Regions from separate parts of the Homo sapiens genome. Here regions 1 and 3 are each linked to region 2. Evidence: fine-mapped expression QTL. A gene starts in region 2. Each other region holds a variant in brackets. All regions are shown on one strand. Distances are from middle to middle.

Evidence for each region. PIP is the estimated chance that this variant, and not a neighbour inherited with it, causes the effect.
Region 1: its variant is fine-mapped to the expression of TBC1D9B in whole blood (INTERVAL, PIP above 0.99).
Region 3: its variant is fine-mapped to the expression of TBC1D9B in ovary (GTEx, PIP 0.99).

What each region holds. Positions count from the first base shown.
Region 1 is chr5:180,053,330-180,055,829 of GRCh38, forward strand. All of the region lies in intron 1 of RNF130 (ring finger protein 130), which reads right to left. Among named protein-coding and RNA genes, the nearest start is that of RNF130, 17 kb to the right of the region's middle. The variant T/A (reference allele first, on the strand shown) is at 1,439.
Region 2 is chr5:179,906,302-179,909,147 of GRCh38, forward strand. TBC1D9B (TBC1 domain family member 9B) reads right to left here and starts at 1,596. Exons shown (of 21, transcript NM_015043.4): 1 at 1,403-1,596. The coding sequence starts at 1,520. RefSeq lists an enhancer at 550-1,327 and silencers at 1,208-1,257, 1,308-1,447, 1,458-1,517, 1,588-1,747.
Region 3 is chr5:179,882,972-179,885,817 of GRCh38, forward strand. All of the region lies in intron 7 of TBC1D9B (TBC1 domain family member 9B), which reads right to left. Among named protein-coding and RNA genes, the nearest start is that of TBC1D9B, 24 kb to the right of the region's middle. The variant G/A (reference allele first, on the strand shown) is at 1,740.

The sequences.
Region 1 (2,500 bases), 150 kb after region 2:
GACAAGTCACATGGAAGAAAGCAACGTATCATTTCAGAGTTTACAAAATCCTGGGCAAACAAAGCTCAGTAACAAATCATCTTGATGAGAAAGAAAATGACACATTTTATGAAGAAAGCAGCAAGAACACACAAGACAAATTAAGCTTTAAGGAGGACTCAAACAAAACCTGAAAAGGCAAACACAAGATGATGGTACAGGCTTACACAGCTTTTCTTTAAAAAGCCCAGAAAGTTGAAGGTTGCCAGTAATGATAGGAACAAGCAAAGCTACTTCTCACAAAAGTTTTATTATTTTTTTAAGTATATTCAGAGCAAGAAGAGTTGGAAAGAAATAGGTTTACTGCCCAGGGCCAACTAAATGATGGATGGAAACATTTCTCAAGACTTTTTTGCTTTTGCTTTCTCTACCACAGAGAATAACCTGAGAACTGCAACAAGCACGGCTACATGACACTGACAATGAGTGCAGAGACTGTAAAAAAGCAAATACATTCTTTTTTTTTTTTTTTTTAATTTGAGACAGAGTCTCACTCTGTCGCCCAGGCTGGAGTACAGTGGCACGATCTCGGCTCACTGCAACCTCTGCCTCCCAGGTTCAAGCGATTCTCCTGCTTTAGCCTCCCGAGTAGCTGGGACTACTACACCCAGCTAATTTTTATATTTTTAGCAGAGATGGGGTTTCACTATGTTGGCCAGGATGGGCTCCATCTCTTGACCTCGTGATCTGCCCGCCTCGGCCTCCCAAAGTGCTGGATTACAGGTGTGAGCCCCTGCGCCCGGCCAGCAAATACATTCTTAGAATAGGTTTCTCTGTTACCTATTTTTACTTCATTTCAGTAGAACAGCTGTTTATATCTTATGCATTCATGCTGGTTTCTTCAATTAATCACTCATATTGTTTCTTGAGATGATTTGTAACGACCCAGCTTTCTTTGTCCTAGGATTTGCAAACTTAAAAAATGATACAATCGCTTTCTTCCCAATTTCTAGGCACTTTGCATTATATCACCAAATGCAAAGAATTCCTTCCACCCCGTGGCATGTCACCCTCCAGGCCAGGGTCAGATGCAGATGCCCACTTAGCTTTTGAGACAATGCACATTCCTTTCGCATCCTCCCTCTCCCTCTAACTTCTCCGATATCCAGTTGTCCCCGCACCCTTTACTGAAAAGACTATTCTTTCCCTCTATTGAATTGTCTGGGCACCCTTCTCAAAAATCAAGTGACAAAAGGGTTTCTTTCTGGTTCTCAGTTCTACTCCACTGATCTACCATGTCTCTATCAGTACCACACTGTCTTGTAGTAAGTTTTCAAATTGAGAAATGTGAATTCTCTTAATTTTATTATTTGTTTTCAAGATTGTTTTGACTACTGTGAGTCCCTTTTACTTCCATATGAAGTTCTGGTATTTTCACAGGATGGTCTGAATGTGTAGG[T/A]CAATTTGGAGGGCACAGGTACCTTAACAAAACAAGTCTTTGGACCTATGAACATGAAAAGTCTGTTTATTTACATCTTTAATTCCTTGCAACAGTGCTTTGCAGTTTTCAGTGCCAATATTACTTTAAATGATATTGTGAAATTTTTATTTTCTAATTGTTTGTTACTGGCATATAGAACTACAACTGACTTAATTTTTGTTTTATTGATCTTTTATCTATGGGTGTTCCTAAATGTATTTGAGTTTTTAAAAAATTACTCTGCTGGTTATTGGTAACAAGAAATAAATTTTGGCCAGGAGTGGTGGCTCACACCTGTAATCCCAGCACTTTGGGTGGCCAAGGCGGGCAGATCTCATGAGGCCAGGAATTTGAGGCCAACATGGTGAAAACCCATCTCTACTAAAAATACAAAAATTAGCCAGGCCCTGAGATCGAGCCACTATACTCCAGCCTGGGCAACAGAGTGAGGTTCTGTCTCAAAAAAAAAAAAAAAAAAAAAAAAAAAAAAAACAAAAAAAAACAGCAAACAAACAAAAAATGCAATTTTTTTTTTCTTTGAGAAGGAGTCACTCTGAGCCACCATGCCCAGCTAGAAGTAAGTTAAGTTTTACTGGCATTTAATTAAGGATTAACACTGGCTGCTTTCCTCAACCTGAATGTCAGATGACTTTGTGTGTGTGTGCGTGTGTGTGTGTGTGTGCGCGCGCGCACGCGTATGTGTCTGTGTGTCTGTCTGTCTCATGTGGTATACCAGTTGTCCTAAATAAAGAGAGGGATTTCTGAAATGCAACAGGGATGGTAGTGACTCTCTCATTCATCCGTTTGTTTTCAGATAATACTGCCAACAGTATAATAGCCATACACTACTCAGTTACAGGATTTACAGACGAAATGATCCACTTTTTACTAAATTGTCCCTCATCAAATGGACAAATGCCTTTTTTTAAAAACCCCAGCAAAAATAAACTGGTAGAGCTGATACTTCTCTCTTTTTAGCTACTATAAAGGGTTAAAAAACAACCATCACCATTACAACTGGTGCGTGGCTCATGGCTGTAA
Region 2 (2,846 bases):
AAGGGTTCCCTTGGGGGGACCCTGGGAGCTCGGTCCCAGGGGACACGGAGAGTGAGGTGGAAAGGAGAAGAGCCCGCAGGAAGGAGGTGTACAGAGACCGGGCTGCACCTGCACCCGCCCGTTCAATGAGACGACCCACATAAGCCTGCCGAGCACAGCACAAGTGTTTCAAGTACACCAGCGAATATGACACACTGGCGCGCTGATGACACCCTGGCGCGCTGGCGGAAGAAAAGGTGCCGGTCCCTCGCTTTCTTCATCGGGCTTGCAGTAGCTTCGAGGTTAGCCACAGGGGCTGCCGACTGAACAGCTGGATCTAGGAGGCGGGTCCAGAACAGGAGCCCGAGATCCTTGAAGCCCACTGGGAGGGAACCCGAAGCTGAAGGGAACACTGAGTGTTTCTGGGAACAGAACAGTCTCTTCCACATGAAGAAACGTGGCCCAGGAGAAGCCTCCGTCTGCATCTGGCTATTAGCTGCTCACACTGAAAATCAGGATGATTCACAGAAAATGCTCTTGATAAACTGGACGACCTGGCAACACTGGGACCGCAATCCTGTAGGGCAACAGTCGGTGCCCCGAAGAGCACAGGCACTGAGCCCGAGCCAGCCGGGCTCCTGCAGTGCTGGGCGCAGGCCCTGGAGCATGAGGGGCCCCGGACACCACCTGCGGAGGGAGTGGCCTGTGGGCCTCCCCTGGATCCCACAGGCCGCACGACTCCAAGGGTGCCTGTCCAGCTTCATCCTGTGTGATGGTGGCACCCGGGCCCACAAAGGGCCACCTTGGCGAGCTTGCAGGAACACCCTGTGCCGCTACCCACAGCCTTGGGTGCGCAGCTCTGAGAGCAGCCAGGAGCAGGAAAGGTGGGGGAGGAGAAGCTGGGGGAATGGGGGTGCGGCCAGCTCCAGGGACCTCTGATCTTGCTAAAAGGGCGATACTTTGGTGAGATGGGCACGAAGAAGAGGGCAAAAGAAAACGTGCGCTGGCGTCACCTGGCCCCTTAGAGGCACCTGGGGAAACTGAGGTGGAGGATGAGGACAGGGCGGTCTCGCCAACTTTCGGCGGTGAGATCCCGGGAAGCTGCACGGCCCCCGGGGCTCGCGGGCGCCGAATCCGGGCAGAAGCCGCCGCCGGTCTCCACTTGGCCGCCCCAAGCCGACCTGAGGAGAGCCCGCCGAGGGCGCATTCGCCTCCCGCCAGCCCCTCGCCTCCCCGCCCCGGCCCCTCCGCGCCCGGCTCCCGGGTCCTGGCCTCGCGCCCCCGCCCCGCCGCGCGCTGGCGTGCGTGTCCGCCGCGACGCGCCGAGGCCGGGCCGGAACCGGACCCGCCCGCCGCCCGCCGCCAGCCCCGCCGCCAGCCCAGCCGCGGCGCCCACAGGCCCGGCCGCCCGCGCGCCTCTCACCCGTAAGGCCGCCGCCCCTGCCGTGGCCCCGGCGTCGCTGCAGCACGAAGAAGGGGTTGGCCCGCTCCGTCACCCACAGCGCATTGGCCACCAGCACCTCCTCCGGGCTCAGCCACATCGCGGAGCCGCTCGCACCGGGCCGAGGCCCGCGAGACGGAAGCGCCCGCCGCCGTCGGCGTCCCGGAGCGGAGCGTGCGGAGCGGAGCGTGCGGAGCGGGCCGGGGCGGGGCGGGGCCGGGCGGGCGGCGCCCCCTGGCGGGCGTGTGGCGCTCCCGCACGCGGCCCGAGTTCCGCGCCGCCCCCTCAGCCCCGGCCTCGGGCGCGCGCCAGCCTGGCCTCCTGGAGCGGTGCAGCCCACGGCCTCCGGCCTGGGTCCAGAACGGAACGGCCCAGTCCGCAGACAGGGGAGCCGCTGTGCAGAGCAGGGCTTCTGGCGTTTTGAAAGCTGTGCAGTGTGAGAGAAGGATGTCAAGAAGCAGAGTTTGGCGGCTTTTGGCTGGTTGCGCGTGCAACCCGGGGCGTGTTAGCACTGCAAAGGGCGCCTGGAAAGGGTTTGCAGTTCCTCCTAATTCTCAGCTTTCTTTTCTTTTTTTTTTTTCGACAGAGTCTTGCTGTGTCGCCCAGGCTGGAGTGCAGTGGCGCAATCTCAGCTCACTGCAACCTCTGCCTCCCGGGTTCAAGTGATTCTCCTGCCCCAGCCTCTTTAGCTGGGATTACAGGCTCCCGCCAACACGCCCGGCTAATTTTTTTGTATTTTTAGTAGAGACGGGGTTTCACCATGTTGGCCAGGCTGGTCTCGAACTCCTGACCTCGGGTGATCCGCCTACATTGGCCTCCCAAGTCCTGGGATTACAGGAGTGAACCATCGCGCCCGGCCAGTTCTCAGAATTCTGACACTGGGGCCGGGAGACTAGAAGAATCTTCCAGCGCAGGGCAGGTGCCAGGAGGCCCTGATACGGGCTGCATCCTTGGAAATCAGTGCTGCCCCTCCCCTGACAGACGGGTCACAGAGGCTGGCCGGCCCTGGGGATGGGGTCTGGACTGGCCCTGGGCCCAGTGGCGGCTTCTGCGCAAGTGTGAGGCTGGCTGCAGGCGAATGCGGGTCCCTGGTCTCCCAGTGTTGGCCTGCAGGGGCAGCGCCAGTCCACACACAGCCTTCTGCATGAGGGGGCTGTCAACTCCACCTGGGACAACGGGCCTGGGGCCTGTCCGGGGTCGACTGGGATGTGGGGTCACCCTGCTGGCTGGAACCCTCACCAGGGTCTGGCTAGAGGGCAAAGGGAAGGGGGCAGTTAAACCATCCTTGGAGCTGGACCTGACTTCCAGGTGGGTTTCTGTGATTGGCACTCAAGAATCTTGGTGCGATGGATGTAGGTACATGCAGTTGACACCCAGAGTGATCTGCAGTCTTCTTCAATGTTGCTGGATATAGGAATCAGCTTTC
Region 3 (2,846 bases), 23 kb before region 2:
CCTCAGCCTCCCAAGTAGCTGTGATTCCAGGCATGTGCCACTATACCTAGCTTAGTTTTGTATTTTTAGTAGAGACAGAGTTTCACCATGTTGGCCAGGCTGGTTTTGAACTTCTGGCCTCAAGTGATCTGCCTGCTTCAGCCTCCCAAAGTGCTGGGATTACAGGTGTGAGCCACTGTGCCCAGCCTGGAATAATTTTTTAATCTTTAAAATTGAACAGTTTTATGAGATTTTATGTCAATATCGACTATTTTGTGTTGATTTTTCTAGACATTCAATGTGTCCTTCCACTATACAAGTTCAAGCTTATTTTATCAGTTTTCCTGAATCACAGTTTCTATTATCTGTTATTCCACTGCTTTTTTCTGGGAAGGGTGTGGGATGGCACTACGATTATACGTAAGTTTGATCTTCTTTGCCTAACTTCTTTATCCCTTCTCTGGACAACTTCTTCTCTATTTGTTTGAGTCTCCTCTGACTCCATTTTTCTCCTATCTCTTCCTTATTTACCTTAATGTATTTTCATTCTTGTGTTCCTGATTTTCATTTCAGAAATATCTGGTTTTTTTTTTCTTATTTCCTCCTGAGTCCTGTCAACTCTCTTCATATTTTTCTGTTGACTAGTCACTTTTAACCTGAGCTTTTTAAACATTTTTAATTTATACCATTCTTTAGTAGTTTCTGTCGTTTTTCTAATTCCTTTGAGATCACTCAGAAACATCAGGACACAGTTTTCATCTGCCTGGAGGAATGTTTTTCTGGTGTGCTTTCATTATCTGTGGGAGGTTATCTGGTTCACTTTCTCCCCGCAATATCTTTGTACAGGGTGTGATCAGCATCTTTTCCTGTTCTTTCAGCAGGATGTTCTACGTACGGGCAGTTGTGGGTCAGAGTAGCTTTCTGAACTCCACAGCTGGAGAGGCCTTTCCCCTGCTGTGGTCGGTCTGTGTAGTCCTTGCTCCTGTACTTTCTGGGATTGGCCACCTCTTTCTTGTATCTAAAGCTTTTCTCCTTTACCCCAAGTGTTCCTGCTCTGTTCAATCCCAGTCCTTTTTTTCTTGGGGTGAGCTCTTGTCTTTCAGAAGAGAAGTTTTTGTTAAGGGCATGGGTTTCCCTCACATTCTTGATCTTTCCTCAGCCGTATAATACGTCAGGCAGCGATAAGGCTGTGGGTAGAAATAAAGCAGGATTTTGTGCTTCCATTAATAAAAAAAAGCCTCCTCTATAAACTGGAGCCTGAGAAATCGGCTCCCAATTTCACTGGCTGTCTCTCAGATTCACTTGTTGAGGTTTCCATTTGCTGAGTAGTCTCTTGTGAGGGGTATTCTGGTGACTTCTGGATTCCTTGGCTCTTAGGACTATCAGAGCCCCTCTTCCTTCCCGCCATTGCCTCAGCACAGCTACTGGCTCTGTGTCTGCACAGAGTCATGCCACAGTTGGTGGTCTGGCCTCCAACTGTGGTGCACAGTTGGTGGATAGAGCATAGCACGGAGGTTCCTTGAAATATTAAAAATAGAACTGCTATACAATCCAGCAATTCCACTCCAGGGTATGTCCCCAAAAGAACTGAAAGTAAAGATTCAAACAGACATCTGTACACCCATGTTCACAGCAGTGTTACTCATAATAGCCATGAGGTGGAAGCAGTCCAAGTTTCAACAGTGAACAAAACGTGGCTTATCCATACAATGGCATATGATTCAGCCTTAAAAAAGAAATCTTGAGCACGCTACAACAGG[G/A]ATGAACCTGGAGGACATCACGCTGAATGAAATAAGCCAGGCACAAAAGGGAAAATACTATATGCTTCCACTTATGTGCATTACCTAGAATAGTTCAATTCAAGTCAAAAAGGTAGAATGGTGCTTGCCAGGGGCTGGGGGAGTGGGGGCTGAGGAGTTACTGTTTAATGGGTTCAGAGTTTCAGTTTTGCAAAACTGAAAAAGTTCTGTGGATGGATGGTGGTGATGGCATAGCAATGTCAATGTACTTAATGGTAAATGTTGTTATGTGTATTTTATCACAATAGCGTCTCCTGAATCTGACCCCTTCTTACACCTACACTGTTCCTACCCTTGATGCTCGACTCCATCATCTTGTGCCCCTGCTTCTGTGATGGGCTCCAGCCGGCCTCCTTGCTTCTATTCTTGCCACTCTCTAGTCCAGCACTGCCCAAGAGAGATGATGAGAGCCACAAATGTAATTGTAAATTTTCTAGTAGCCACATTGTAAAGTCCTAAAGTAAATTATTGAGATTAATTTTAACAATATATTTGACTTAATCCAATATATCCAAAATACTCGCATTTCAACAGGAATCAATTAAAAAATGATGGAGTGGCCAGGCACGGTGGCTCACCCCTGTAATCCCAGCACTTTGGGAGGCTGAGGCAGGTGGATCGCCTGAGGTCAGGAGTTCAAGACCAGACTGGCCAACATGGCAAAAACCCGTCTCTACTAAAAATACAAAATAAGCCGGGCGTGGTGGTGGACGCCTGTAATCCCAGCTACTCGGGAGGCTGAGGCAGGAGAATCACTTGAACCTGGGAGGCAGAGGATGCAGTGAGCCAAGACTGCCCCACTGCACTCCAGCCTAGGTGACAGAGCAAGACTCTGTCCCCCCCCCAAAAAAAAAAAGATGGAGGTATTTTACGTTTTTCTTTTCATACGAAGTCTCCAAAACCCGTGTACAGTGATCTGAACACTCACAGCACATTTCCATTGGCACCCGCTGGATTTCCAGTGCTCCATGGCCACACGTGGCTGCTGTACTAGACGGGGCACCTCTAATCCACTGTCAACATGGACGGCCACAGTAACCCCATTAACACGTAAACAGGTCGTGCCCT